Regions from separate parts of the Homo sapiens genome. Here all the other regions are linked to region 1. Evidence: fine-mapped expression QTL. A gene starts in region 1. Each other region holds a variant in brackets. All regions are shown on one strand. Distances are between the middles of the regions. Region 1 holds the start of AGRN (agrin). Region 2 holds the start of LINC02593 (long intergenic non-protein coding RNA 2593). Region 3 overlaps AGRN (agrin).

What was found. PIP is the estimated chance that this variant, and not a neighbour inherited with it, causes the effect.
Region 2: its variant is fine-mapped to the expression of AGRN in whole blood (TOPMed, PIP above 0.99).
Region 3: its variant is fine-mapped to the expression of AGRN in whole blood (INTERVAL, PIP 0.98).

What each region holds. Positions count from the first base shown.
Region 1 is chr1:1,015,418-1,025,733 of GRCh38, reverse strand. It overlaps AGRN (agrin), which reads right to left and starts at 5,614. Exons shown (of 36, transcript NM_198576.4): 1 at 5,361-5,614; 2 at 3,272-3,533. The coding sequence starts at 5,561. RefSeq lists enhancers at 6-981, 982-1,958, 3,143-4,342 and silencers at 5,851-6,300, 9,978-10,198.
Region 2 is chr1:913,741-924,056 of GRCh38, reverse strand. It overlaps LINC02593 (long intergenic non-protein coding RNA 2593), which reads left to right and starts at 4,365. Exons shown (of 4, transcript NR_122045.1): 1 at 4,365-4,722; 2 at 5,142-5,232; 3 at 5,942-6,035; 4 at 6,337-7,239. It overlaps LOC284600 (a long non-coding RNA gene), which reads right to left. Exons shown (of 5, transcript XR_007065342.1): 2 at 8,586-10,316; 3 at 8,108-8,307; 4 at 5,986-6,175; 5 at 3,038-4,087. It overlaps LOC107985728 (collagen alpha-1(III) chain-like), which reads left to right. Exons shown (of 5, transcript NR_168405.1): 2 at 596-782; 3 at 914-1,044; 4 at 1,322-1,385; 5 at 1,548-3,814. It overlaps SAMD11 (sterile alpha motif domain containing 11), which reads right to left and starts at 134. Exons shown (of 14, transcript NM_001385641.1): 1 at 1-134. RefSeq lists enhancers at 511-1,089, 2,931-3,867. The variant C/T (reference allele first, on the strand shown) is at 6,043.
Region 3 is chr1:1,044,721-1,053,609 of GRCh38, reverse strand. AGRN (agrin) reads right to left here. Exons shown (of 36, transcript NM_198576.4): 13 at 8,333-8,449; 14 at 8,087-8,251; 15 at 7,734-7,877; 16 at 7,522-7,646; 17 at 7,345-7,450; 18 at 6,875-7,213; 19 at 6,653-6,790; 20 at 6,156-6,283; 21 at 5,923-6,037; 22 at 5,715-5,834; 23 at 5,245-5,598; 24 at 4,551-4,743; 25 at 4,159-4,374; 26 at 3,815-4,044; 7 more. Among named protein-coding and RNA genes, the nearest start is that of RNF223, 25 kb to the left of the region's middle. RefSeq lists a silencer at 2,820-2,919. The variant GCC/C (reference allele first, on the strand shown) is at 4,495.

The DNA.
Region 1 (10,316 bases):
TCCCACCCGGCAGACCCCCTCCCAGCTGCAGGAGGGAGATTGGGGCAGCAGCCTCGAGCCCAGACCTGCCTGGGGGAGGGCCAGAGAGGGGCTCATGGGGTGGGGGTGGGGGAACCAGGGGGCAGGATGAGAACCTGGAGTCAGGAGGGGGCAGGAGAGGGTGGCAGGAATGCGGAGGAGTTGGGGGCAGGAGCTGAGCCCTGGGCAGGAGAGGGGGCTGGCCCCAGCCCTATGGGAGGTCCTCCTGCATCCCAGAAACCTCCCCCAACTCCTAGACTGCCCCACACTGAGGGGAGCCTGGTCTGGGGCTGTCGGGCCCCTCAACCCCAGCACCGATGCTGTCCCCGGTGCCGTGGGACTCTGGGCTTCCCCTAGGACTGCCGTCCTGAGGCCTAGGCAGCTGGCCAGGCAGGGAGGAAGGGAGGGTGCACACGCCGGAATACAGGCGGGCCCGGGACTAGGCCGCCGGGACCCCGGGCTTCAGAGCTGGGCAGGGCCGGGCTGGGAAGGCGCCAGACTCACTCTGACCCTGGCCCCCTGCCCTGTCCCTGTGCCAGGCCCCGGCAGGGGCAGACAACACTCCCTTTCTCTGCTCCTGGCTCCTAGCAGGGAGGGATGGGCCCCGGGCGGCCTGGCCGGCCCTCAGCCAGGAGTCCCTCCTGGGGGCTTCAGGGAGGCTCTAGGACCAGCCTTTGTGAGGTGGGCTGGGAGGGCATGGGCAGTGCCCAGACAGGACAGGGTGGCGAGGGCCGGAGGAGTCGCCCGCTCAGCCGCCAGCCCTGGGCAGCTGGCACTGCGGAGGCCAGGCCACTTCCCTGACAAAGCAGGGGCGGGGGTCTCCTTCCGGAGGGAGCAGCGGGCCTCCCCCGCCCAAAGGTGGCGCAGAGGGAGGGACACATACCTGTCTTAGTTATGCCAGGAATGTGGCTCCCTAGGCAGAGAAGGGGGGAGGAGCCTTTCTGAGGGTTGTTGACTGGGGGAGGGGCCTTGGCTGGGCAGGGCCAGGAAGATCTGGCAGGGCCAGGTGAGAAACTGAGGAAAGGAAGTCCTCAGTAGAGCTGAGTCCAGGTGTGGCCCAGCAGCAGGTGCACCTCAGGCGGTGTCCGGGCAGGGGTGGTGAGGGGCGTGGCCCTCCCCGACCTGGGGAGCTCGGAGGGGCCTTTGTCTCCAGGATGGGGTTCCCATACAAGGTGGGACCCTGTGGTCTCAGGGGTAGCTTCTGAAGACTAGGGGCTGCCCAGACGCCATCCTGTGCCCTGGGAGGTGGGGTCGGAGTCAGATGGGGAGAGGTCAGCTAGGCTCAAGCTCCCTCCATCCATCCCCCTCACTAGGGTGAGGCCTTGGCTACCAGAGGGCCCAGGGTGGGGTTCAATGTCCTTATCTCCTACAGAGCAGGAGATGGACCCACCTCCCACACCACCCAGTGTGAGGGGAGGGGTGGGCACACAGAATTGTCCCTTCTCCAGCCAGACTGGCTCCAGAGACCTTGTCCCTCAGGGCTCACCCCAGGCTTCTGGGAGGCATTTACCCTGTCCCGGCAGCCAGGGACCCCAGCCACCCGAGATATCCCTGGTCTACTTCCACAGCAGAGCTCCACATGTCCCACCGGAAGCTCCTGGGCTCCCCCACTCCTCATGCTGTTTCCCTCCTGAGGCTCCCCTTGGCCCCTGGCTCACCTGCAAGGCCCCTCCCATGACAGTCCTCCCTGGCTAACCCTCCCCTGGCCAGCCCCACCCCAGGGGGTCCGGTGGCCACAGCCCCTCCCGGGTGCTCCCCAAGCTGCATACTGGCTGTGGGTCCCAGGCTCCCCACCTGGAGCTCGTCCCTGAGTGCGACTGCCCACAGCTGGGCTAAGCCACACCCACCTGGCAGGGGCTCCCCACGGACCCTCCTCCCAGCGCTCTGCTCCGCCTGGGCACTCGCTCCAGAGCCAGTGCCTGGCACCCGTAGAGCGGCTTCGGTAAGATGCAGAGCCTCGTTCAGCCGGGGTGACTCTCCTGCCATGTGCCCTCTGACCCTAGAGCAAGTCCTCAGCTACTAAGTCACGGACTCTCGGGCTGGACCCACCTGGCTGTGGGGTTAGTGACCCCCTCTCCTGATCTTGCAGGGACAGGAACCTCTCCTCGCCCTAACCCCCTTCTCCAGCCCCTCCTCAGCTCCTGACAGCCTATCCTGAGTCCACGATGCCCCCATCTTTTCCCCAGACCATGAGTGCCCAGAAGAGGACCAAGGTTATCATGTCCTCCCAGTGGGGGACCCAGGGGACCCTCCTCTGTGCTGCACTGAGGCCCTGGACCCTGAAGGCAGCTTGGGGACCACTGACCACAGGCTGGGGAAAAGGCCGCAGCGTTCCTTATTTTGGGTGCTGCCCCTCCCCCTGCATAGCCCCCAGGCATGCACAGAGAAGGCAAGAGCAGTGGACAGTCCAGGACCCCACAAGGACCCCTCAAGAGCCAGGCTAGTGTCAGGGCAGCAAAGTTTCCTGCCGGCCAACGGAGCAGATCGGAGAGACGGGAAGTCAGGACCCTTACCGTTGCCTTGAGGAGGAAGCACTCTCCAGACCCCCCCACCGACACATCCCTTCCCAGGCAGCCATGAGGGAGCAGACAGGATGTGGGGGCGACAGGGACCTCCTATATTTTCCCTGCCACATTCCCCAGCCAACGATCTCAGTCCCCAACTGGGACTTGTCCTGCGGGGGCTGCCATGGGATTTCTGCCCCCACCAGGCTGGGGTCAGGGAGGGCCACTCCTCGGCCCTTCGGCAGAGCCATGGGAACAGCAAGCAAGACCTCACGATGGCAAATGCCACACCCTCCACATCCGCAGAAGCCCTCGCCGCACAGCCTCGCCCTCCCGCCCGATCTCCACGGCGAGGAGTGCTCGACACGCGGGCCCGTCTAGACGGAGGTCTGGGCTAACACAGGGGCTTGAACAGCTGGGGACATTCACCTGTCCAGCTTCTCCCTAGAAGGGGCCTCCAGAAGGAAGTATGGAGAGCTGGGAGGAGGGGAGGAGGCAGGAGGCCATCTGTTTGCAGGGCTGGGACTTGCCTTGGGCCCCAGGGCCAAAGATGTCTAATGTGAGGGCTTGGAGATGCAGCTGGGGAGCCAGGGACGGAGAAGCAGAGAATGAGGTTGGACCACAAGACACCGTGTGCTGCAGCCTCCGGCACAGCACGAAAGGACCCCGCACAGCGACCCCTGCAACCTGTCCCCCTTGGCCACTGCCCTGACCCCCACAGGCCCCCACACGAGCCCCCCACCACGCACCTTCCACACAGAACTCCACCTCCTCCAGGTTCCGCAGGGTGATCCGCATGAGGCTGGAGTTGAGCATCAGCTCGTTCTTGTGGGCTGGCCACAGGTATGGGGGTGCAGGGTTCACAAAGAAGATCCTGGTGTCCCCAGTGGACACCTGGTTGTCACAGATGAGGGGGTCTCCAAAGCCGCTGATCACCACCTTGTTGCCGCCGTCCAGCAGGCTCTCCCGGGCCACCAGGTCTTTGCCCTTCAAGTACCGCCAGACCCGAACCTGGGGTGGACATGGCGGTAGGTGTCATTAGTCCTCTCCTGGGGAAGGGGCTAGACTGGGGGCTTTAGGTGTTTAGGGCAAATGTCCACAGTAGACTCAAGCCCTGGGCAGAGATGTGGGGAGACCTCTGAGTCAGCCCGCTGGGCGGAAGCTGGGGGAAGCCCACACTGGCCACCACAGCCCATGCGGGAACGCTCAGAGATGCGTCACCTGTGAACACATCCCCTCCCCCAGGTCTAACCAACTTCAGCCACCCCAGCTCCAATAACGTCCCTATCAGCTAAGGCCGAATTTGGGAAGGGGGCCCACCTGGCTTGGGGTGCCTGCCTTCCACACTTCTCCCCACCTGCCCAGTGCTCAGGGCCCACCTCCCAGCAAGCTTGGGCAGTGGAGGAGGGGGATGGGGCGTTGGGGTAAGGGGCCAGCTTGGCCCTGTGGCTGGGCTGAGACGCCCCTTCCTCGGGCTTCTACAGTCTGTGCACTCAGGGCAGCCTGTGAACCACGAAATCAAGTTTGGGCAGTGCAGGGTGCCCCACCCTCCACCTTCTCAGCTCCTGGGGCCCTGAGGGCAGCTGCTCTGACGGTGGCCTGTGGTAAAGGCTACAGCCGACCTGGCGGCCCTCACGGGGACAGGGACCCACGCACTCACGCACTCCCCTGAGAACAAAGCCGGGAGAAGCAGCCCCTTCCTCAGATCTGGGGGGCTGGGGCTGCCGGATGGGGGGAGAGACAATGGTTGGCCTGTCCACTGCGCAGCCCCTGCTGGGAGCCTCAGGACTGCGGCATCCGCAGGGACCCCCTCCAGTTGCGCAGGCAGAGCCTCTTCCACGCCCCCCAACAGTAGGCTCCAGGAGGCAGATGACCCAGGCAGGGGGAGGGCCTGGTGGCTTTCATCGCCTTCCCCCACCCCAGCCACACCCAGGAGCAGCGGGGAGGAAGTCGGGAAAATCCTGCAGGGGCCTGGCAAAGTGCCCTGGCCGCTGTGGAGGAGACTGGGCCGGCGGGGGAGCCCAGCTGTAGCCCGCACCGGCCAGTCTGAAAGAAGCTGCCACCTTCTCCACCTCCGTGGAGGGAAATGAGTGGATTTCTGGTCCCAGGAGATGGTTTTGGGGGTACACGGGCGCCGGCTCTGGGTCCCCCGAGCCCCTACTAGGAGAAGATGGTGGGGGTCCCAGCGTACCTACCCCGGGGGCTCCCAGAAGCACCTGAAGGAGAAACCAGGGAAACTTCCCCTCCCCGGGGTGGGGAGCCCCGGTTCCCGCAGGAGCGCGATGGGGCACCGGCCCTGCCCCCAAGCACACGAGGCCCGGTGACGGCCCCGCCCACCTCTCTGCTCCTGCACGCCCCCCCCCCGCACCACTGCGGCACCCCCCACCTGGCTCCCGGGGTTGGGAGCTCAGGCTGTGCGCCCCTTTTTCTCTCCTGACCAACCCCTCTCGCCCCGGGAAAGGCCTCTGGGGAGGGGAACAAGCGGATCCCAGGCCCAGCCCCCGCTCCCCGCCCGGGCAAAGGCCCCCCCTCCCCAGGCCCCTCTCCTTCTCGGCCGGTAGGGAGGGCGCGCGGCAGCCGCAGTCCGTGGGCGAGGTGCACTTGTCTCCGCGAGGAGGGAGGCGGCGGCGGGCGGAGGACGGCGGCGGCGCAGCAACTTTCCCCGGCGCCCGCGAGTTTCCCGGGACCCGGCGACCCCCCCTCCCGGGGCTTGGCGGTCGCCAAGGGAGCCGGAGCGGGGGCTGCGGAGCGACCGGGGCTGGTTCCCACGGCCTGGGGCGGGGGTCCCGGCGGGGCGGCAGGCGTCGCGAGGGGAGGCCGGGGTCCGGGTGGGCGCACCTTGCAGGAGTACGTGTGCTGCACCGGGTCCACGTTGAGGATCTCCTCCACCGTCCCGGTGAGCACCACGTTCGCCTCCTCCTCGCGCCGCTCCAGCGCGCGCTCCGGGCATGTCCCGCCGGCTCCGGGCAGGACGCACGCGGCCACCACAAGGAGCGGCAGCAGCGGCCGCAGCGGGCCCGGGTGGGACCGGCCGGCCATGGCGCAGGCGAGAGGCGGCGGAGGAGCGCGCGGGCCGCGCCGGGGACGGGACTGGACAGGACGGGACGCAGCTCCGGAGGCGGCGGAGCGCGGGCGGGCGGGCGGGGGGGGGCGGGGCCAGGGCGGCGCCCCTCCCCCTCTCTCCTCCCCGCCCCCCTACCCCCTCCCCGCGCCCTCCTCCTCCCCCTCCTCCTTCCTTCCCCCTCCCGCCCCCTCCCTCCTCCCTCCCCCGGCCCGCCCGGAGGCCGGCGACCCGCGCCGCCGCGAACAAAGCCCCGGGACGCAGCGCCCGGCGCGGCCGTGGGGCGGGAAAGGGGCGGCCCGGGAGGGGGCGGGGAGAGGAGAGTGGGGGGCGGGTCTGGATCCCGCAGGCGCCCCTCCCCCGCCGCGGCCCCCCGGAAGTGCGGCTGCACCCGAGTTAATGCCTAATCTGGAGGAGACGTGACGGGACTGCCGAGGGGCTCCGGGCGGCGCGGAGCCGGGCGGCAGGGCTCGAAGGCCGCCGGGAGGGGCCCCAGACCCGGCCCCGATCCCGCTCCGCAGGCCGCGCCCCTCCCCCGCGGGGCCGGACACCGAGGCTCGGCCGGGCCGGACCCCCCGGGAGCTGCGGCGCGGAGGCGGGTCCCGGTGCCGGGGCGGGCGCTGATTGGCCAGCACGGGGCGCGGCCCCGCCCCTCCCGGCCCCGCCCCCCCAGGCCCCGCCGCGGGGAGGTTCGCGCCCCCTTCCGTCCCGCGGCTGCAAGCGCGGGTCCCGCCACGCCCCTTCCCAGCTCTGGGCCGGGCGCCTCTGCAGCTTGGCCTGGCTGGGTGCAGGGGGAAACTGAGGGCTGGAGGACCCAAGTGGGAGCCTGGCCTAGCTGAAGATTGAAAGGAGGGAGCGGAGGCCCCCTTTGTCCCTTCAGAACTGTGTCTAGGCTGGGCGTGGTGACTCACGCCTGTCATCCCAGCACTCTGGGAGGCGGAGGCAGCAAGATCTCTTGACACCGGGTGTTCGAGACTAGCCTGGGCAAAATAGCAAGACCCCATCTCTCAAAAAAATTAAAAATTAGCTGGATGGGCCGGGCGCAGTGGCTCACGCCTGTAATCCCAGCACTTTGGGAGGCTGAGGCAGGTGGATCACGGGAGGTCAGGAGTTCGAGACCAGCCTGGCCAACATGGTGAAACCCCGTCTCTACTAAAAATACAAAAATTGGCCGGTGTGGTGGCAGGCGCCTGTAGTCCTAGCTACTTGGGAGGCTGAGGCAGGAGAATCGCTTGAACCCAGGAGGCGGAGGTTGCAGTGAGCTGAGATGGTGCTGAGAGGTGACAGCGTGCTGGCAGTCCTCACAGCCCTCTCTCGGTCTTCACGCCTCCTCTGCCTGGGCTCCCACTTTGGTGGCACTTGAGGAGCCCTTCAGCCCACCGCTGCACTGTGGGAGCCCCTTTCTGGGCTGGCCAAGGCGGGAGCCGGCTCCCTCAGCTTGCAGGGAGGTGTGGAGGGAGAGGCATGAGCGGGAACCGGGGCTGCGCGCGGCTCTTGCGGGCCAGCTGGAGTTCCGAGTGGGCGTGGGCTTGGTGGGCCCCGCACTTGGAGCAGCCGGCCGGCCCTGCCGGCCCGGAGCAATGAGGGGCTTAGCACCCGGGCCAGCGGCTGCGGAGGGTGTAGTGGGTCCCCCAGCAGTGCCAGCCCACTGGCGCTGCACTCGATTACTCGCCAGGCCTTAGCTGCCTTCCGGCGGGGCAGAGCTGGGGACCTGCAGCCCACCATGCCTGAGCCTCCCACCCCCTCCGTGGGCTCCTGTGCGGCCCAAGCCTCCCCGATGAGCGCTGCCCCCTGCTCCACCGTGCCTAGTCCCATGACCACCCAAGGGCTGAGGAGTGCGGGTGCACAGCGCAGGACTGGCAGGCAGCTCCACTTGCAGCCCCAGTGCGGGATCCACTGGGTGAAGCCAGCTGGGCTCCTGAGTGGTGGAGACGTGGAGAACCTTTATGTCTAGCTCAGGGATTGTAAATACACCAATCAGCACCCTGTGTCTAGCTCAGAGTCTGTGAATGCACCAATAGACAGACACTCTGTATCTAGCTACTCTGGTGGGGCCTTGGAGAACCTTTATGTCTAGCTCAGGGATTGTAAATACACCAATCGGCACTCTGTATCTAGCTCAAGGTTTGTAAATACACCAATCAGCACCCTGTGTCTAGCTCAGGGTTTGTGAATGCGCCAGTGGACACTCTGTATCTAGCTACTCTGGTGAGACCTTGGAGAACATTTATGTCTAGCTCAGGGATTGTAAATACACCAATCGGCACTCTGTATCTAGCTCAAGGTTTGTAAATACACCAATCAGCGCCCTGTGTCTAGCTCAGGGTTTGTGAATGTGCCAGTGGACTCTGTATCTAGCTACTCTGGTGGGGCCTTGGAGAACCTTTGTGTGGATACTCTGTATCTAACTAATCTGGTGGGGACGTGGAGAACCTTTGTGTCTAGCTCAGGGATTGTAAATGCACCAATCAGCGCCCTGTCAAAACAGACCACTAGGCTCTACCCATCAGCAGGATGTGGGTGGGGCCAGATAAGAGAATAAAAGCAGGCTGCCGGTGCTAGCAGTGGCAACCCGGTCAGGTCCCCTTCCACACAGTGGAGGCTTTGTTCTTTCGCTCTTTGCAATAAATCTTGCTACTGCTCACTTTTTGGGTTCACACTGCTTTTATGAGCTGTAACACTCACCGCCAAGGTCTGCAGCTTCACTCCTGAAACCAGCGAGACCACGAGCCCACCGGGAGGAACAAAAAATCCAGACGCGCTGCCTTAAGAGCTGTAACACTCGCCGCCAAGGTCTGCAGCTTCACTCCTGAGCCAGCGAGACCACGAACCCACCAGAAGGAAGAAACTCCGAACATATCCGAACATCAGAAGGAACGAACTGAAGACGCGCCGACTTAAGAGCTGTAACACTCACCGCGAGGGTCCGTGGCTTCATTCTTGAAGTCAGTGAGACCAAGAACCCACCAATTCTGGACACAGTGCAACTGCACTCCAGCCTGGGTGACAGAGCGAGACTGTTTCAAAAAAAAAAAATTAGTCGACGGGCCGGGCGTGGTGGCTCAGGCCTGTAATCCCAGCACTTTGGGAGGCCGAGGTGGGCGGATCACTTGAGGTCAGTAGTTCGAGACCAGCCTGGCCAACATGGTGAAACTCTGTCTCTACTATAAATACAGACAGGGCACGGTAACTCACGCTTGTGATCCCAGCACTTTGGGCAGCCAAGGGGGGAGTGGATCACAAGGTCAGGAGTTCGGGACCAGCCTGACCAACATGGTGAAACTGCCTCTACTAAAAAATTAGCCGGGTGACACGCACCTGTAATCCCAGCCAGTCAGGAGGCTGAGGCAGGAGAATCGCTTGAACTCAGGAGGTGGAGCTTGCAGTGAGCCGAGATCACACCACTGCACTCCAGCCTGGGCGACAGAGCGAAACTCCATCTCAAAGAAACACAAAACAAAACAAATACAAAATTAGCCAGGTGTGGTGACACGCACCTGTAATCCCAGCTCCTCGGGAGGCTGAGGCGGGAGGATCACTTGAGTGTGGGAGGTGGAGGCTGCGGTGAGCGGTGATTGTGCCACTGCACTCCAGCCTAGCTGAGAGTATGACCCTGGGAAAAGTAAGTAATTTTTTTAAAAAAAGGACTGGGTCAGTCAGGCCCAGTGGTTCACACCTGTAATCCCAGCATTTTGGGAGCCCGAGGCAGGCGGACCACTTGAGGCCAGGAGTTCAAGACCAGCCTGGCCAACATGATGAAACCCCATCTCTACTAAAAATACAAAAATTAGGCCGGGTGCGGGGGCTCACACTTGTAACCCTAGCACTTTGGAAGGCTGAAGCGGGCGGATCATGAGGTCAGGAATTCGAGACTAGCCTGGCCAATACAGTGAAACGCTGTCTCTACTAAAAACACAAAAAAAAGTTAGCTGGGTGAGGTGGCGGGCACCATTAATCCCAACTACTTGGGAGGCTGAGGCAGGAGAATTGCTTGAACCCGGGAGGTGGAGGTTGCAGTGAACCGAGATGGCGCCACTGCACTCCAGCCTGAGCGACAGAGTGAGACTCTATCTCAAAAAAAAAAAAAAAAGCACGGGTGCGGTGGCTCACGCCTGTAATCCCAGCACTTTGGGAGGCCGAGATGGGCGGATCACGAGGTCAGGAGATCGAGACCATCCTGGCTAACACGGTGAAACCCCGCCTCTACTGAAAATACAAAAAAAAATTAGCCGGGCGTGGTGGCGGGCGCCTGTAGTCCCAGCTACTCGGGAGGCTGAGGCAGGAGAATGGCGTGAACCCGGGAGGTGGAGCTTGCAGTGAGCAGAGATCGCGCCACTGCACTCCAGCCTGGGCGACAAAGCGAGACTCCGTGTCAAAAAAAATAATAATAAAAAGGACTGGGCCTGTGGTGCCCCTCTCACCCCAGGCTAGCTACAGATCTCTGAGCCAGAAGCCACAAAGGAGGCCCTGCCCTGCCCTGCCCCCGTTGGGGGTTCAGGAAAGGCCCCTGGCTAAGTGCTTCACTCGCCCATTGTGACACAGGGGTGAGGTGGGGACCCGGACACAAGGCTGGAGCCAGGACACCCCCTGCTGGGCACATGCGGGCACACACAGTGGTCCTGGTGCAGCCAGATGGGGGTCTCCCCACCTGGATATGGACCCCCACAGACCAGGGGGGACTCTGTGTCTCCAGCCGGATCCTCCCGAGGGCTCTGAAAGCTGAGGCCCAAGTG
Region 2 (10,316 bases), 100 kb after region 1:
CAGCGAGGAGTCGCGGAGTCCCCGCCCCTCTCGGGGGTCCCAAGCCCCCGCCCCGCCGCCCGGGCCGCGTCAGTCGTGCACCCGCGTCCACTGGCGCGCGCCCGCCCGGCGGGGACTTGGGAGACTCCGCCGCCGACGCCGCCGCCACAACTTGGCCCATTTAAACGGCCCCGGCGCGGCGGGCGGCGCGGGCTCCCGCGGGGGGTGCGTGACGGCCGACTCGGGGCATCCGGCGGCGGCAGCGGGACAGGGCTGCGGCCCCCGGCACTATCCCGAGTACCGAGTCACTGCGAGCGGCTGGAATCCAGGACTCCGCGCGGGACTGGGATGGGCTGGGCTGGTCGCGGACCGGGCTCCTCTCGGAGGGAGGGAGCTGGGGGCTGCTCGCCGGGGTGTGAGCGTGCGCCGGCGGCTCTGGGACTTTGCGCAGCGAATCTGATGGTGGGCGTTGGTGTCCGGGAGGGCGTGGGTGGTCTCAGTGCACCTGCAGGGAGCGAGGTTGTGGATTTGTAGTGTGTTGCCTGGGCAAAGTGTTCTGTGAATAACAGGGCAGCACCTCCCCGCCCACTCGTGCCCCTTCCTATGCACTTGACAGGAGTGAGTTCGCCCGAGCCACGGAGTTCCTGTTCAGTCTTTTGCAGAAGACGCTGAGACAGAAAGGTCAAGTAACTCTCCTGAAGTCACACAGCTGTTTCAAATGCAGGATGTCTCACACCAGGACCGCGCCAGGACCATGGTGTGGGGCAAGAGCTTCCTGTCACCCCACACCTCCCAGCAGGAAGGTGGTGTGGATCCGAGGCAGGGTGAGGGTGGGGGATAGCGGGTTGGCAGAGTGCACGGCCTCCCACTAGGAGGAGCAAGGCTAGTGAAGCAGGACCGGCCACACCACGTCCACCTTGGTGCCTTCTGACAGGTCAGTCTGGGCCCCAGTCCCTGGTTCCTGGTGAGCTTCCCATCACCCCCCACCTCCCTGCGTGCCCAGATCGGCATTGCATCTGGAGCGTTCCGAAGAGAAACACAACCTGGGGGCGTTGGTAACAGCAGGTGAGACAGCCTTGTCCTGCGCTGCTGTGCGGTGTTGCATCCACTAGAAAGGGGCCTCCTGTTCTGACCCTGGCCCCTGCCCTTGAGATGCAGCTGGCATGTCCCTGTGGGCATCTCCCAGAGCAGGTCCAGGGGTGAGTGGGCCACAGGCCTGTTTGCACAGGTGCCTTCTTCGAGGGAGGGAACAGCCCACCACCACCTCCTGCCAGACCAGCTTCCTTGAGCATAAACCTGACCCTGGGTGACCACGCTGGGCTCCTTCACCTTATCTCACCAGAGGCTTCTGCTGGTCCCACAGCCAACCCGCGGAGTGAGGTCTGGGCCAGGAGTGCTCTGCTCAGGCAAGGAACATGCCCAGAAGCCTCCCCCGCTATCCTGGCCCTGTTCTGTGGGGGCTCGTTGGTCTGTTGGGGTCTGGGGGGCCAGGTAGGAGTGTGGGTGTGAGTGTCGGTGACCCTTCCTTATGTGGCCACCCTTGGCCCTATCAACCTGTCTGCATCCAGGACACCAGCACATCCCTGACCCCAGCTGTGGCTGCCAGTGAGTTCCTGTGCCTTCCTCTCCTGAAGTCTGTGTCTTCTCCCAGGTCTGATACCATGTGGAAAGTCTGCTCCTGGGGCCAGCTGGAGGCCATGTGGACTGGCCCTGAGTGCCCACTGTCTGGATGCAGCCCTGACCCTACTGCCCGTGTGTGGGCTACTAGGTTCACCTGCACCTGACCCTCCTTCTAGGTTCGCCTGCACCTGACTCCCTGATGTTCACACAGTGATTTGGAGAGGGAGGCTGGGGAGGCGCAGGTCTGCATGGCAGTGCCTCTCAGGGTCTGAGGCCCTTGGGCCAGGCCTCTCCTCTGACCTGGGCCAGCAGAGGGGCCTCCTTTCCCTTCCAAGAGCCCTCCCCTGTTCACCAGCATCTCATCATGCTCAGGCCCACAGTGTGGTTAAGGAGGGGCATGGGGCTGGCCCTGGGTTTCTGGCTGGGTGTGGGGGCCTACCCGGGGCCCATGGTGTCTTCCAGAAAAGACCCTGACTGGGTCCAAAGCTGGAGGCACCCCTCTATCCTCACTGTCCACTCCCTGATGTTCTGGAGGTCCCTCCAGGGGCTGGGTGAGGAGGCCTTCCCCACCACCTCCTTGTCTTCCTGGGAAGCAGGCACCCGTTCAGAGGCCACGTTCCCACAGGACCAGGCTCCTCACCCCCAGCATCACCCTTTTCCACGGGGTTGTGCCCCTTCCTTGGTCCTGTCCACTCACACACACCCGTGTCCGTGTCCATGTTCACACCTGTTCTGTGTCCACTCCCACACACCTGTGTCCACTCCCACACCTGTGTCTCGTGTCCACTCGCTCACACCTGTACTGTCCGTGCCCACTCACACGTGTCCCGTGTCCACTCGCTCACACCCGTGTCTCATGCCCGCTGGCTTACACCAGTCCCGTGTTCACTGGCGCACCTGTGTCCCATGTCTTGTGTCTGCTCGCACATCTGTGTGATGTGTTCACTTGCTCACACGTGTCCTCCACTACCACACCTGTGTCCCATGTCCACTCACACACCTGTCTTGGTCTGGGACACCTGGGCCCCACTCTCCCCTGCACTCCTCAGGCTGGCGGCAGAGGCCAGAGGAACGGAGTTCTGGCGCTGGAATCATCCTGAGCGAGGCAGGGACCTGGCGGTGTGGACTCCACCGCCCCTCCTCCGGCCCACCGAGCCCCGCCTGCCTGGGCCTTGGTGCCTCTGTCGCTGCTCCGGGTCCCCCTGCTGGGGCCCCTCCGCCGCTGGGCTGAGGCTGGAGCCTGCCTCCCGCCGCCAGAGGGAGGAGGTCATAAATAACCCTGGGGCTGCCATGGAGCAGACGGTGACCCCAGACGTCCTGGGGGAGTGTGGGGGCGCCAGGGGCCGCTGCCCCAGCCCGCATGCCGCCTCCGCCATCCGGGAGTGCCTGCCCAGGCTCCCCAGCATTTCTCTTAGAGCCCTTCTCATCCATCCCCTCATCAATCAATCAACCATTTATTGAGCCCAGATGTGGTACAGCCCCAGCCGGAGATGACCCAGAGGTGGGGTGGGGAGGAGAGAGATGGGGAAGCTGAGTCCGGGGCCACAGGTGCAGCCAGGAGGTGCAGGTGAGCAGCGCTCAGACCAGCCTGTCAGCCTCAGTCCTGAGCTTACTTCTGGTGATGGAGGGAGATATACAGAAAAGATCCTGCAGCCTGCAGGTGTGGCACAGCTGATCTTGGGCCAAGGATGCACAGCTGTGTGTGTGCCTGGCCACCGGCAAGGGCACGTGGGCTCAGAAGCACAGGTGTGCCCACACCCTGCGTGCCTGTGTGTGGCGCAGCAGCTCCCGACGCGCGCAGGACACACACACAGCACAGACAGACCCTCCCATGGCCACACGGACAAAGATGGCTTCACTATAGACACCGGTGCAGACAGGATGTGCACTGCTTTCCAAGGCCTGTGCGCAACACAGACTCAGGGCCTGTGGGCATCAGCACCGCCCAGACCCAGGCACACGTGATCCTCAGCCAAGGTGGCCTGTCCAGTCCTGGTGCTGTTGGATGGAAAGGCTAACCTGGGAGGTCAGGGGCTGTGGTATATCAGCTGGGCTCCCTCGGACGCTCCTGCAGAAGTGGCCAGGACCTCAGGAACGCACCTGCTCCTGGTCAGACAGGAGGGGCTGCCGTGATGCAACTTGCCCGTGCCTTTGGGTGCTGTGAGCTGGCTGCGTGCCACGTCGTTTCGAGGACGCAAGAAGGTGTTTCCAAGTCCAGTCTGTCCACCGACCTGAACCTTTACCATTGAAAGAACAAAGGGGTGGGGCCCGAGGGACCCTTCCCTGCCGTCCCGTGGTGTGTAGTCAGGGATGCTCCTGCAGACACACAGGTGGGCTCTGACTGCCAGATCGCAGGGGCGGTGCCGTGGTCCTCACCTGCCATGTCACTAGCGTGCTGACGCAGACACCGGCGAGAGCTACAGTGCTCGGCCCGGCACATCCCAGACAATTCCTCTGTAAATGCTGCAGCAGCCAGAGGCCCCAGCACCTTGAGGTTAAGCAAAGAGAAGGAATAGAGTTCTCCAGAGCCCCAAGGAGCGGGAGGGTCTGTCCCAATGGATGGGCTCAGCCAATTTCACCCTCTCCTCCCCCTGCCAACACTGCGGCCTGCAGCCTGGACCTGGCCCGGGTTGTGGAGGGGACCGGGGATGCAGCTGCCACCTGCTGGGCGGACGTGGGCCTAGGTGGTCCTCAGCCCTCATGACAGGAGCCCCCGAAGCACTGTTGCGGCACCCTCTCTGACATTGGGTGGGAGACTCTGGGAGCCGAGTGCAGAGCCAGGGCCCAGCACGAAGGCCTTGGGCTCCAGTCCGTGTGCCCCACATCCCTACATGAGTGAGGGTGGAGGGATGGTGCCTCTGCCACGGCCACGGTGCCGCCGTCCACGTCAGCTCACTCTCAGCACAGGTGCTGTGTGACGGCCTCGGGCCACACCGCTTGTTCTGAGGCCCCTAGCAGGTCGGGCTTGTGCTGGCTGCACATTGGCTGGTGAGCTTGGCGGGTCTGTGGGCACGGAGAGACCAGAACGTGCGTAACAGGCCCGATGAGGGTGCCAGGCTGTGGCGACCCCCGAGCTTCAGAGGAGAGGGGCACCAGCCGGGGGCCCTGCACAGGCAGCCTCAGGTGCGAGGAGCTGGAGCCCAGGCCAGCTGGGGAGGGGTGGGGTGCCGTGGCTGGAAGTTGCTGTTCTCAGACCTGGTTCTGAGACCCTCTCCAACTGCATGGGGGGGTCCAGGCTGGACCCCAGATGTGACGGTGTATGTGCTGGGATGGGAGCCCCCTGAGAGCAGGGCTTTTGTTAATTCACCGGCAATCCCACATGTCTGGCACGAGATAGGTGCTCAGTCAGTGAAAACCACACACGGGGTCCTCCATTGTGTCCAGGGGAGGGTGGGCCCTGCTCACAGCCAGACTCCTAGCCCTGGGCAGCCCTGCTGCCTGCCTGCTCCTTCCACTCCTACCACCTGCCCAGGTGGGACTCTGCCTGCCTTCCTGTCCCCAGTGCTCTGTAGGAGTTTGACCACAGGTATCCTCTTCATCAGAGAGAGGAAAGCTCACGATCTGGGAGAACTCCAGGCCTGGCCCAGTGAAGACGTCCTTATCTTCAGCAGACATTGCCCAGTGCAAGGGGAGGTCAGTCTCAGGAGACAGTCTCCTGGACAGTGGCGTGGCATCTGTCCTAAGGCCTTGCCTGCAGCACAGGGTGCCACAGAGGTCCCCTGTGACAGAGCCTCATGGCTGGGGCAGGCGGGGGTCGCACCTGCTCCTGCATGAAGAGGCAGATAAAGACCCACAGCATGGTCTCTGGGGTCCCACATCCCAGGTAGAGAATGACCCAGGTCGCTGGCGTCTGTGCCATCTCTGCTCCACTGACCACTCATGGGGGTCCTGGAGATCCTGACACCGGTGGCCGGGGAGCAGCAGCCCAGGCACAGGCCCCAGTGCACATGCAGATCCCACCGTGTCTGCACAAGGCCTTGCCCCAACGAGGCCTGGGTGCCGTGTGAGGGCCGGGACGCTAACACAGCGGAGGGTACCCACGCGTGAGCTGCTCTGGGGTCCCTCCCCGTGTTTCTTCCTGTAATGAAACTTGTACCCAAATGGGATATGCAGGGTTGCACTGTGCAGTCGCTGTGTGTTTTAGGGTCTCATACCCGTGTGCGCCAGCAGGACCACAGCTGTGACCGGCTGCTCCAGAAGAAGTGGGTGGGTTGAGACCCCACCGGCAGGGTCACTGGGGGTAGCAGGCCCTCTGTCAGCACTGACTTCTGTATCATGTCAGGGATTTTTAGGGCGGCAAGCTCAGGTGGACAGGCAGTTTTATTCTGTTTCCCATGTCAAGTCCAGCCCCAGACTGACTTTCTGAGGTCACAGACGGAGCCTCACCCCATCCAAGGCGGTGTCCTGGACTCCCACTGTGCTCCCCAGAGGGCAGGGTGAGTG[C/T]GTGGCATCCTTTTGGCGGGCGTGGGTGCCTCTGTGGACCTGGCGTGAGGCTTCTCTGTTTCTGAGTCTCCTATGGACCATCTGTCTTCTGTGTGGCTGCTGAGGAATCACACTGGGGTGGCCGTGCCGGTGGCTGAATGAGAACAGGACCCCCATGCTGCACAGCCCTGCTTAACGCGGGGGTGGCCCCAGAAGCGGGTGGGCGAGGCTGGGCAGCAGGGATTGGCTGAAATCATATGCAGAGCCCAAGAGGCAGGGGAAAGGCGGCAATTTCAGGGTCCCTTTGTTCGCCAGGTACCTGGGGCCCAGCCCGGGCGGCAGGAGGGACTCAGCCCCTCGCCCAGGCAGGAAGGGTCCCAAGCAGAGGCCCCTCCCTCAGGCACTCCCCAGCCCACACCTGCAGCACTGGGACCAAGACTAATAAAACACCAGCCTCACGGAAGACAGCTTTATCTTGTTGATCGGAAGTCTGCCAGCCCAATTTATGATGGAACATAAGATCTCTAAATCTGAATTTACGCTCTGTAGCGTAACGAGAGGTCAATAAGATTAAACGGGGGCTCAGGAGAGGACCAGCGTCAGGCTCACTGCGAGGTGCTGCACAGAAAACCCACAGCCAGAGCCCCTGGGCCCAGCCCAGGCAAGACCAGAAAAGGAGGGGGCAGGTGGGAGACCAGCCTGGGGCTCCCGGGAAGCCCACGGGATGGAGGCGGGAGAGCCAGGAGGCCTGGGGCAACCCTGGGACGGTTCCTGGATCGAGGAGAGCAGGGGGGTGATGAGGGTTCCCTCAGGGCTGGGGAGCCTTCTCCTGGTCTCAGACCCACCCCCCTTCAGCTCCCAAGCCCTGGGTGCCCCTGGCTCTGAGGACAGTTGGGAATCTTCCCTGAGGCAGGTTCAAGGACAGAGCTCTGACCCTGGCCCAGGGCTGCTTTGGGTGCCTATGAACTCGGCTTCTGGCTCAGAGCAGTTCCCTGCACCCCTTCCTGAGCCCTCTGTCCTCTGGAACCCGTGGGCAGGGTGAGGGACGGGTGTTCCTTCTGGGTGGGGGCCTGGGCGCCCAGCCAGCACGACGCTGGCTTGCTGAGCTTAGGGCAGACCCCGACTTCAGAATTTATACAAATAAATGCAATGAAAAGTGCTGGCAACCTGATCTGATTACAGAGTCATTCATTCTCTGGTCGTTAATAATTTGTGCAATAAAGGACTGCAGCCGCTCAGTGCGGGGGAGGCTGTGGCCCAACCTTCCCTCGGCGCCGGCCCCGGGAGCTGGAAGCATAAATTATTAGTTTCTTATCGCTGGGCCTGCCATCGCTCATGCTGCCAGGGCCTGGCGGGAGCTGGTGGCTGTTCTGCTGCCCGCCCTGGCCGGCTCAGGGCCGGCTCTCAGCCGTCGCCTGGGGCCCTTTGTCACCCCCACCCTGGCCCCCCAGGTGTGGGAGCCCCAGAGCCTGCTCAGGCCTGGAGGCTGCTGCTGGAGCCGGCAACTCTGGAAGCCAGAAAGGTGGGGCTTTAGTGCCTGTCCTCAGACCCTCAGGTAACCAAAGCCAAATTACTCCCTGTTGGAAACACAACCTCACATACCGGGCCACAGCACGGACACCCACGACAGCAGGCCACAGCACGGACACCCACGGCAGTGGCCCACAGCACGGACACTCACAGCATGGACAGCAGCCCAGAGGGACCCTTGCCCAGACCCTGACCAGGGGGAAGAGACAGTTGTGTCTGGGTTTGTCAGTCCTCTGGTTGTGGCAGGGCCCCTCTGGGTGGGACTCGGCACCTGTACCTGGGAGCACCTGCTCAGATGAGGGAGTGGGAGCAGGAACAGCGCTCATGCTCTCTCCCTGTGTCCAGGGCTGGGGCCCTGGTCTGGCGGGTAGGCATAGGGCACCTCCTGCCCTCTCATGCCCTCATACACCTGCTGCTGGGGTTCCCTGTCCCACCCCAAAAGGGAGAAGCCAAGGCTGAGGCAAGGTTGGAAAATCAGGGTGGGGACTCTGGAATCCAGACATCCCGACAGAGGATGCAGGAGGAATCGGCGTGAGCGCAGGGTAAACTCACGGACCCGAACTCTCAGATGTGCTTCCTGGGCTCAGCTTCCCCTTTCTGGAGGGCTGGGGGTTCCAGAACCTTGCCTTGAATTTGTGAGGATGGTGGGACCTGGAGGGCAGGTGGCGCAGATGGTGTGAGCCCTCACCCCAGGACGCTGTGCCCACTTCTGGCTGTGCAGCCTTGGGAAGGCTTCTGACTTCTCTGAACCTCAATCTGTAAAATGGGAATGAGAATGAAACAAGATGAAATTAACATGCATTGAGCGTGTGGGGTGGGGCAGAGACAGCCACCTTGCAGCTGGTGAGGCCCTTACAGCATCTGGTCCTGCCACCTCGCAGCTGGTGAGGCCCTCACAGCATCTGGTCCCGGAGCCCACACAGCCCTTTGCAGAGACTGCCCTACCCACGTGCAAGCGTTTCGCCCTCTTCCCACGGGCGACCCCAGCTTGGCCGCATGCGTTTTTGCTCAGAACGTCCCCACCTATGTCCCACCTGCCCTCTGGCTTCGGGAGTGCTGGGCGCAGTGGTGGCAGGTGCCTCGGTGCCCTTGGACTTGCCCGGTCGTCTGTTGCTTCTGAGGCGGCCCCGTTGATGGGTGCTCCTTCTCTTCTGGGTGCATTTTCCTTTTCCTGCTTCCTCGCATGCCTGGTGATTTTTGAATGGGTGACAGGGATTGTGAATTTTGCTGGGTGCTGACTATTTTTGTAGCAAAGCTGAGAAAAGCTTACTTTGCTCAGGACTCCAGGAAGTTACTTGGAAGCTGTTTGGTCCTTTGGGGTCTTGCTTTTAAGCCCTGCTGGGAGGACCAAGGCAGCTTGTAGTCTGGGGCTGACTGTGCCCTCCTTTACCAGGGCACGGCCCTGCTTGGTGCTCTGCCCAGGGGCTGAGGTGCCCCAGCCTGGCTGGTGGACCACGGACCTTCCACGGTTCCCTCTGGTGATCTCGGGTGGTTCTCCTCACCTTCTGTAGTTGCCTTTCTTTTTTTCTTTTTCTTTCTTCTTTTTTTTTTTTTTTTGAGACGGAGTTTTACTCTTGTTGCCCAGGCTGGGGTGCAGTGGTGCGATCTTGGCTCTCCATAACCTCCGCCTCCCGGGTTCAAGTGATTCTCCTGTCTCAGCCTCCCGAATAGCTAGGATTACAGGCATGCGCCACCATGCCCAGCTAATTTTGTATTTTTTTTAGTAGAAATGGGGTTTCTCCATGTTGGTCAGGCTGGTCTCGAACTCCCGACCTCAGGTGATCCTCCCACCTCAGCCTCCCACAGTGCCGGGATTACAGGCGTGAGCCACTGCGCCCAGGCCTGTAGTTTCCTTTCATGTGAAAATGCTGATTGTGGCTCACTCTTTACCTGCTGTCACCTCACACCTCAGCCTCCCCAGACTCCCAGCTTGGTCTCCTTCCCTGAAGGAGACCCCTGAACACACCTGGGTCCCCACGCCTGCACCACAGCCTGGACACTGGGGGCAGTGAGCTGGGCAGTCGCGGGGCTCCGCCTCCATTGTTCCCCAGCCTTGCTCACCTGGTGACCCTGGCGGGATGGGGGTCTGGCTGCTCCCTCCTGCCTGGACGTCTGTCCCCACTGGTGTGCTCACGACAGTGCCCTGCATGCCTGCGGGGCTCTCACAGGTGTTTTCTGAGTGGCCTGGGTGGGGCCCGGGCAATCTGCTGGACAACAGACCCTCAACCCATCCCCTGCCAACCTAGCTCAGCCCTGAGCTCCTGGCAAGGGATGAGACAGCCTGAACTTCAGCCCAGGGAGGGGTGCGGGGGCTGCCGTCAGGTCCCTGCTGTTCCCTGTGCACCGAAGGTGGGCCACCTGGTTCTTCCTTCTCCAGGACCTCAGGCAGCCCCTGTTACCCAAGGTGGCGGCTCCACTGTGGGGGCCAGGACAGGGGCGGAGGGTGGATAGCATGCCCACTGTGAATGCCCCGGCTGGGTCCTTGCCTCTCCAAAGGCTTTGTCACCAGGGCCCAGGTGACAGGAGGCTGTCATTGTGAAGGAGATTTAATCTTAGAAAACTCTCAGGAGAGCAGTGAAGCCTCAGGGTGCTGGATTACCCGGAAGTGCACTCTGGGCTGGGGGCAGCAGCCGCGGTCATAACACGTGTGTGCCACACCAGGAAACCTGTCTGCTAACGTGTGCACATGGGCAGGCTGGCAGCACCTGGCTCTGGCTTGCTTGGAGTGGACGTTGGATCAGGTGGCCCGGGTCTCAGCCTGACAC
Region 3 (8,889 bases), 29 kb before region 1:
TGGGAGGGAGAAGAGGGATGGAGACAGGGGCAGCCTGGCAGAGAGAGATCAGAGAGACGGGCGGGAGGACAGATGGGCCAGCCAGGGGTCTGCAGGCACTGCTGCCACGTGCTCACCTGTGAAGGGCCCCGGAATCCAGAGTTTCGGGGCTTAGAAGCAGGAAGAGAGGGAGGCGGGTGAGCAGGGGACAGGCGGGGCCAATGCAAACCCATCTCAACACTGTGGGGTGCAAGGAGCAGGCACCCACAGAAGACATGCGTGACCTCGAGGATCACTGGCCGCCCACCAAAGAGCCCAGCAGGGACACCTACACATGCTTGTGCGGACACGAGACACGTGAGGGTGCAGACACCCACGTGCAGACACGAGACACTTGAGGGCACAGACACCCACATGCAGACACCCACGTGCAGACACCCACGTGCAGACAGCAGGGGAGCACAGCCAAGGCTGGGCGCAGAGATCAAGGAGGTAGGCGTAGGGTGGTATGGAGTGGAGACCAGGGGCTTGGATGCCCCAGTACACACATGCATGTGTGCATGCACGCAAACCTACACACGGACACACACACCCCTCCATGTTCACACACATACACACGTGTACACGAACACACACAGACACACCTGAGTGCTCCCCACTTACACCTGTTCATACACACACACATCTACATATCCCCCCATATATACACGCATATACACGGACCCATGCACACACTCGGACACACACCTGTCTCCCCCACATATACACACACATACATGGACCCATGGACACACACTCGGACACACACCTGCGTGTCTCCCTCATATACACACACATACATGGACCCATGTGCACACACTATACACACATGGACCCATGCACACACACTCGGACACACACCTGCGTGTCTCCCTCATATACACACACATACATGGACCCATGTGTACACACTATACACACATGGACCCATGCACACACACGGACACACACATGCATGTCTCCCTCACCTATACACACACATACATGGACCCATGTGCGCACACACTCAGACACACACCTGCGTGTCTCCCTCATATACACACACATACATGGACCCATATGCACACACACACACACGGACACATACCTGCATGTCTCCCTCATATACACACACATACATGGAGCCATGCACACACACGGCCGCATAGTCACACACGCATATCTACATGTCCCCCCCACATATACACACACACATATACATGGACCCATGCACACACACAGCTGGATATTCACACACACTTGCACATCCACTCCATATACATAGACACGCACAGACACAGCTGCATGTTCACACACGCGGAAGTGCACACGGACACAGACATGCATGCATATGCGCACAGGTGTGTACAGCCTCAGTGGTGGGGGTTGGCTGTGGGGCGACCCTCGGCCTGTGCCCTGGGAGGGGCGACTGCACTTCTGAGGCAGGAAACGGCCTCTTGCAGCCAAATAGCGCCGGACCCCCATCCTCCGCCACAAGGGATGGAAAGTTCCCCGGGGGCTCCGGACTCTGCTCCCCACCAGGAAGGATGGAGGAGTGGGAGTGAGAGGGAGCGGGGGGCGCCGAGCTCTACTCACACGGGGATCTCATTGGCCAGTTCGCTTGGAAACAAAGAGACAGACAGTGAGAGGCGGGAGGACCGGGAGGTGAGAGAGAGGCGGGAGGACAGAGGTGGCAGCACCGGGCCGTCCCCTCCTGGGCCCTCCTGGTGTGGGGGTCCGGTGTCCCGCCCCGAGGGCACAGATGGAACCGACAGCCAGCAGAGGATGGCACGTTACCTCTCGGTCACAGCGTTGAGGTACTCGACAAAGGTCCGCCCGTCAAAGGCCAAGGTATCCACGTCCCCCGCTGACTTCTCCACCAGCCCTGTGAGATAGGCAGGTGAGGGTGGGGCCTCGTGGGCTCCGGGCCCATCCGGCCTCCGCCCCCTGCCCTGTGCCAGGCTCACCCTTCTCGCAGTGCGGTCCTGAGAATCCCCCGGGACACAGGCACACATAGGCAGCCTCCCTCGGGACGCAGGAGGCCCCATTGAGGCAGGGGTGGCCTGAGGCCCGGGTGCAGGGGTGACCTGCAAAGGACGTGACGTCCACCTGCCGCAGCACGTGCTCCGGGGTCAGCAGCTGGCGGCCTCCGAGGGAGACCTGCAGGGCAGGGTGAGGGCCTTGTCCCGCCTGCCACCCCGCCCGCCCCGGAGGCCCTGCTGGGACGCCCCGCCCCCACATACCAGCTGGATGGCACCGTCGAAGCCAGAGGACACGGCAGCAGCACGGGCCAGCTTGCTGAAGTCGGGAGCGCCCCCTACGTAGAGCGGCTCCTTCAGGTTGAGGACGGTGTGCGGAACCTGCGGGGACGCCAGGTAAGTGGCTGTGCAGAGCCCACCCACGGTGCAGACCCAGGGCCCAGGCACCTGCACGCACCCGCCCCACCCGCCCATTGCCTATCTAGGGGGCAGCGTTAATCACACAGAAATGGCAGGGTCCTTAGTGGGGGAGGAGCTACCCTAGGGGTTGAGGCGCCAGAGACGGTGAGCGGATGAGAGGCCGACAGTACCTTGCGGGATTTCTGGCCTCCGAAGAGCGGGTGGGGTTGCAGAGCGAGAGCAGAGAGCAGGGAGGCAGAGGAGGCAGAGGACAGGGCAGGCGGCCAAGAGAACAGGACAGAAAAACAGCTCCGTGAGCGCCGGCAGGGGCGGGGCTGCCGCCCGAGGAGGAAGAGCAGGCAGCAGCGGGAGTCCCCTCGCGGCCCAGAGCACTCACCGGGGACTCCCCCAACACACGGGGGCCGTCGCCCACACGCAGGGCACCCTTGCGGCCGTTTCGCTCCAGTGAGACCCTGGTCCAGGCTCCCAGGGTGACTGGCTCCCTGCTCCTGGTGAGGAGGGGCAGCGTGAGTGGGCTCTGTCCACCACCGGCCACGCGACCACCCAGGGCCTGAGCGACCTGCTGGTGCCCCGGCCCCGGGCCAGTGCCCCAGGCCTCCCAGAGCCACCCTTGCCGGCCCACCTGATGACCGCTGCCCCCTTGCCCAGGTCGTAGCGGAACTCCAGGCGGCGGTCCCGCAGTGCCAGCGACACGAAGTCCCCCTTGCCGTCCGTCTTCTGCCCGTTGTAGAGCAGGAGGCCGCTGGGGCCTCGTGCCAGGAACACGACCTCCAGCGCCATCTTCTCCCTGGGGTCATGGGGAGTCGGGGTGTCTTTGCTGTCCCCTCCCCACAGGAGAGACGGAGGTGGGGGCCGGCCCTTCCCCCTGCTCCTGCCCCACCGACCCCAGGTCCCGTGCAAAGGTGTGCAGGCCTCTCAGCTCCAGGTGGGAGAAGCCGTTGAAGTCAGCCAGGAAGGGCCCAGAGCCGTCCTGCCCCGAGGCTGTAGGGAGAGTCACCAAGGCCTCAGTCCTGACCCCCGGGGCCTCCTGCACCCCATGCCAGCCGTGTGTGGATCCTAACTCAAAACCCAGACTAGACTGAGCCGCATCCTAACTGCAATGCTACCTGGAACCTGTACCCGCCCAAACGTTCAACCCCCCCCCCCCCCCTGCCCCGAGAGCCCCACGCCCCCGACCTGTCTGGCAGAAGGTGCCCTCACGCCCCAGGGGGCACTCGCACTGAGCACCACCCTCGGGCAGCACACGGCAGGGCGCCGCCCCATGGCAGGGGTTGGGCTGGCAGGGGCTCTTCTCATCGGCACAGGTTGGTCCTGGATGGAGGAAGACGGGACCGGGACCGAGGTCCCAGGAGGCGTCGGTTGGGTACCGCCCACAGGCCCCGGGGTCCCACTCCCACCCGCCCCGGCCCCACCCTCACCGACGCGGCCGGGCGGGCACTGGCAATGGAACCTTCCAGCCTCCAGGTTCTGGCATGGGGCCCCGCCATGGCAGGGGTTGGGCAGGCAGGGGTGGTCCCCGCACTCGCCCACGCCAGAGCCTCGGGTGGCAGCCCCCGGCCCAATGCCAAGCTCCAGGCGCTGGTTGTTGACGTCCAGCAAACGGATGCACCCCCTCAGGCCGGCGCCCACGAAGGTCCGCTCCAGCGCCCTGCCACCAGGAGGGACACCGGGTCAGGGCTCAGGGGCCACAGGCAAAGCCACCTCGTACACCGGGACCCCAAAGGGCCGGGGTCGGGGCCACACCACCCTCCAAGGGACTCACACGGCAGCCTGGTCCTCGGGTACGCCGCCCACAAAGAGGTCTGTGTCCAGGTTGAGGCCGTCGGTGCCACTGGGACTCTCGCCCAGAACAGGGGTCTCACCATCCACCGAGAGGGTGCCCCGGCGCCAGTGCCGGGACAGCTCCAGGCGGTGCCACTGGCCCGGCTCTACCGGCACGGCACTGGTCAGCACCGCCGGCCCCGAACCTGTGTCAAACCTGAGGGCAGGAGCAGGTGCTCAGGACCATCGCCCGGCCCCGTCCCCACCCCGCCTACCTGAGCTGCCCCGCCCCCGTCCCCACCCCACCCACCTGAGCTGCCCCGGCCCCCCCTCCCCC[GCC/C]CGTCCCCTCCCCGCCCACCTGAGCTGCCCCGGCCCCGTCCCCTCCCCGCCCACCTGAGCTGCACGCGGCCATCTAGCAGCGCCAATGCCAGGAAGTCCTTGCCCCGGGCGTTGCCATTGTACAGCAGCAGCCCCTGAGGCTCCAGCGCCCGGAATTCCAGTGCCAGGCGCAGCGTGTGGTAGGCGCGGAGAGTGGGGAAGGCCAGGAAGGAGCGGCCCTCGAAGGCCGGCACAGGGGCGCCAAGCACTGCAAAGGGCGACCGGGAGGGCCGGCTGGAAAAGCTCCGAGGATTCCCCACTTTTATCCCTGAAACCGCCCCCTGCTTTTTTTTTTTTTTTTTTTTTTGAGACGGAGTTTTGCTCTTTTTGCCCCGGCTGGAGTGCAGTGGCGCGATCCTGGCTCACCGCAACCTCCGCCTGCCAGGTTCAAGCGATTCTCCTGCCTCAGCCTCACGAGGTGGGATTACAGGCGCCCACCACCACGCCCGGCTAATTTTGTATTTTTAGTAGAGACAGAGTGTCTCCATGTTGGTCAGGCTGGTCTCGAACTCCCGACCTCAGGTGATCCGCCTGCCTCGGCCTCCCAAAGTGCTGGGATTACAGGCGTGAGCCACCGCATCTGGCCGAAACCCCGCCTTAATCCGGGCTCCTGCCCCCAACTCAAAGCCTGATGGTGGCTTAGCCCCACCCCCAATCCTTGCCCCCACCCTGCTGCCTCCCCGCCCTCCTCTGCAGTGGACATCCTTACCCTTCTCACAGACGGCGCCTCCCCTGCCTGCCGGGCAGCTGCAGGTGAAGCCCCCGCCCAATGCCCAGTCCTGGCAGGTCCCCCCGTGGAAGCAGGGCTGTGAGTCACAGGGCTTTGGAGGCTGCTGGGGGGCCGGGGGCCGACGTCCGGGCACACGGCTGGGGGCAGTGGTGGGGGGCCGACGTGTGGTGGGGGCTGCCGTGGTCTTGGCAACGGGCTGGCTTGTGTGACTGGGGTGCGGGGCCCGAGGGGTCACAGCAGAGGACGGCAGGCGCGATGCAGTGGTGGCTCTGGCCGTGGCTCCCGCAGCAATGGCTCCTGACGTGGCCCCCGTGATAAACGCAGGAAACCAGTCTGCCGGCACAGGGAGCTGTTAGGGTTTCCTGGGAGCAGGGCCAGGAAGGGGTGAGGGGCAGGGGCATGGGCAGAGGAGGGGGCAGGTAAGCTGTGGCTCGTGGCCTGGCGCTCACCAAAGTCCATAAATCGCACGTGCTCCTGCAGCGGCCGCCTCACCCCCAAGGACCGGCGCCTGGACACCTGGATCTGCCGGAGCAGGGCCCGGGCCACGTCGGGTGCCCTGAAGGCTGTGGCTGGGGAGGAGGGAGCTCTGAGCATGGCAGAGCCCCAGGCATCCCCCACCCATTGCCTCCCAGGAAGGGTCCAGGGTGCAGGTCTCACTGGGGTCAAAGTGCACATCCACAATGGCGCGGACGGATTTGCCGGGCCCCAGGTCCCGCAAGCGGACACTCCGAAAATCCTTCTTGACGTCTGAATTCCGGAAGAGGTCGTCCAGCTGTGGCAGGGAGTAGGCAAGGACTTGGGGGGCCGCCCAAGCCGGGCTGCCCTGGTGCTGCTCTGGGTATCTGGGGAGGAAGGCCAGTGGGTAGGTGGGGGCTGCGCCCCCGTCTTACGGTGCTCTCAATGCTCCTGGCTGTCTCCCCGAACAGTTCTGACTTGGGGTCAGCCATCTCGGGCGTGTAGAACAGCTCCTGGCCCTCGACGCCCTCCAGCTCCAGGACGCCCTGGAACACCTTGGTGGCTGTGGGGGAGGTACAGTGAGGCCCTGCCTGGCATCTGCCTGGCATCCAGGCTGGCCCAGGCACAGGCCCCAGCAGCAAGCCACAAGGGTGCAAGGGAAGGTGGATGTTAGTCAGATGGTCATGAGGTTAGTGGGGACCCCAGGGTGGGGCTGGTGTCGGTTACCAGGAGGACTCCTCAGAGCAGTGTGCCACACCGGCTTGCAACGAGAGAGACGGGTTAGGCGTGGGGTCCCCGGCACGCACATGTTTGAGGGGGCCGAGTCCCAAGACCATAACCCCCGGCACTGACCTGCTGCCCAGGCGAGGGGGCAGCACCTCGGCCGAGCCCAGGCTATCCTCACACTCCCCTCGCCCAGCCGTCCACTCACCGGGGCAGTTGGAGCCCTCTGCGTCCAGCGAGGGCGTCTTCCCATCAGAGCAGCAGCCCAACGCGGAGTTGTAGCAGGAAGCCCTCTCGACAGGTGGCCCAGGGGTGGCCACGCTGCTGCCCTCCAAGGGCTCGAGCCCTGGGGAGACGCGCTCTGAGCCCAGGCTCTGGTGGAGCCTCTCGGCGCCTGCCCACCCACCCCAAGTCCTTGATCCCTGCTCACCCCCAGAGCCACCCCCACTGGCCTCCTGGTCCCCGCTCAGTTCCTCATCGCTGCTTCCATCAGTGCTGCCAGATTCACCAAAGGCGGACGCCACCAGGCTGGGTGCAGGGGAGGGTGCCGTGGGGGGCACCGTCAGCACGGGCCACACGGTGGTCCTGGGGACGCTGGCAGTGGTCCGAGGTCGTGATGAGGGCGGAGGGGTGGTCTGGCTGTGTGCGGTACTGCTGGGAGCCAGGGGGAGGGCGCCGGGGGGGGCCGGCAGTGCCTGGCTCAGGAGGAGCCCTGGGGTGGTCACAGTCACGGAGGCAGATGTCGGGTGAGTGCTGGGAGCAACAGCCTCTGCAAGGAGAGGGAGGTTGGCGGGGGGACCGGTTGGGACAGGGTCAGGTGGCTCAGGGCGGGTGGGGCTGGATTTAGGGCAGCGTCAGGCCTTCCTGGTCAGTTCTGGGGCAGTGGCCGTCAGGCCTCACCCTGGCACGGGCCCAGGCTCTGGATAGAGATTTGCAGGCCCTGGCGGCAGGCGATGGTCTTCAGCTGACACTCGTTGCCGTATGTGACTCCATCTGACCCACAGACCTGGGGCAGAGAACAAGGATGTTCAAGGCGAGGCCTCCTCCCCACTCCCCTTCACATCCCACACCCCTCACCTTGGTAGCGTTGGCCTCTGGACAGGTGAGCATCGGGCAGACACAGTGGGCTGAGCCAGACTCCTCCACGCACCGCGCACCGAACTCACAGCGCATCTCCGCACAGGTCGCAGGCGCAGAAGCGTCTGGGGCACGGGCATGGGAAACCTCTGTGGCTCGGGTGACCCCACCCCACCCCATGAAGCCCCAGGGTAGCGCTGGCCCTCACTCACCAGCTTCACAGCCCGCGGGGCCCAGGGCACGGCCGTCTGGACACTGCCCACACTTGGGTCCAGCCACCCCGGGCTTACACGAGCACAGCCCCGTCATCTGCTCACAGTCATCCCGCACGGCGCCTTGGGGATCACAGCTGCAGGCTTTGGGGAAAATCGGGGAGGAACGTGATGTCCGCACCTGGACGGGCTTCCCCACCTCCTCCAGAGCCTGGTCCCCAACCCTGGCTCTGCCCAGCCCCCAGCCAGGTGTGGGTCAGGCCAGGGCCTGGGCAGGTGAGGAGAAGCACAGTGATGGGGGTGAACAGGTAGGAGGGCATAGCCGGTGGCCAGTCCTGGGCCCTGTCACTCACGTGTACAGCCACTCCGGCCATCGGTGACGATGCCTCGAAAGTTCCAGAAGCCAGGCTCACAGCGGTCACACCTGAGGCCCCCCACACCTGGGCGGCAGGAGCACTGGCCTGTGGCTGGGTCACAGGTGCCGCCGTAAGAGCCATGGGGGTTGCACTGGCAGGCACCTGAAAGGCCAGGGCAGGACAAGGTCACGTGGCCGCACAGCCGCACCAGGCCCGGGGTCGGGGCTGAGCTCAGGTACTCACTGGGGCAGCCAGCCAGGCCCACGCCCCGGGCTGCGGTGATATTGTCCTGGCAGCAGCCGTAGGGCGTCTGGGCACAGTGTAAGGGGGCCACAGGCGGCAGCGGGGCGAAGGTGGGGCCTGCAGGAAAGGGTACGGGACTCAGATTTCATGCAGTGCTGGACACCCACCCTGGACCCAGCCAGTCTGCCTCCACCTACCCCCACTGTCACCACTCAGCCGTCCCGATCCCAGCTCCCAGAGGAGCCCGGGAGCCTGGGGCTGAGGACACAGGTGAGGCTCCCACATCTTACGCAAGAACATGTCTGTAAATGCAGATCCAGGAACACACAACACACAGAGCATCCAAAGATCACGGACACGCAGCTCTGTGCACACACACACGCGAGCTTCCTTGCAAATCGAGAAACAGACATCTGAAGACGTCAGCATGCGTTCTCACCCACATTCCTCCAAACCGTACAGTTAACGCCCCTCTGCAGACACACATCTGTGCACGCGCATCACACACACCGGGCACCACTTTTACCTAATTGATGTGATACATCGACCGGATGGAC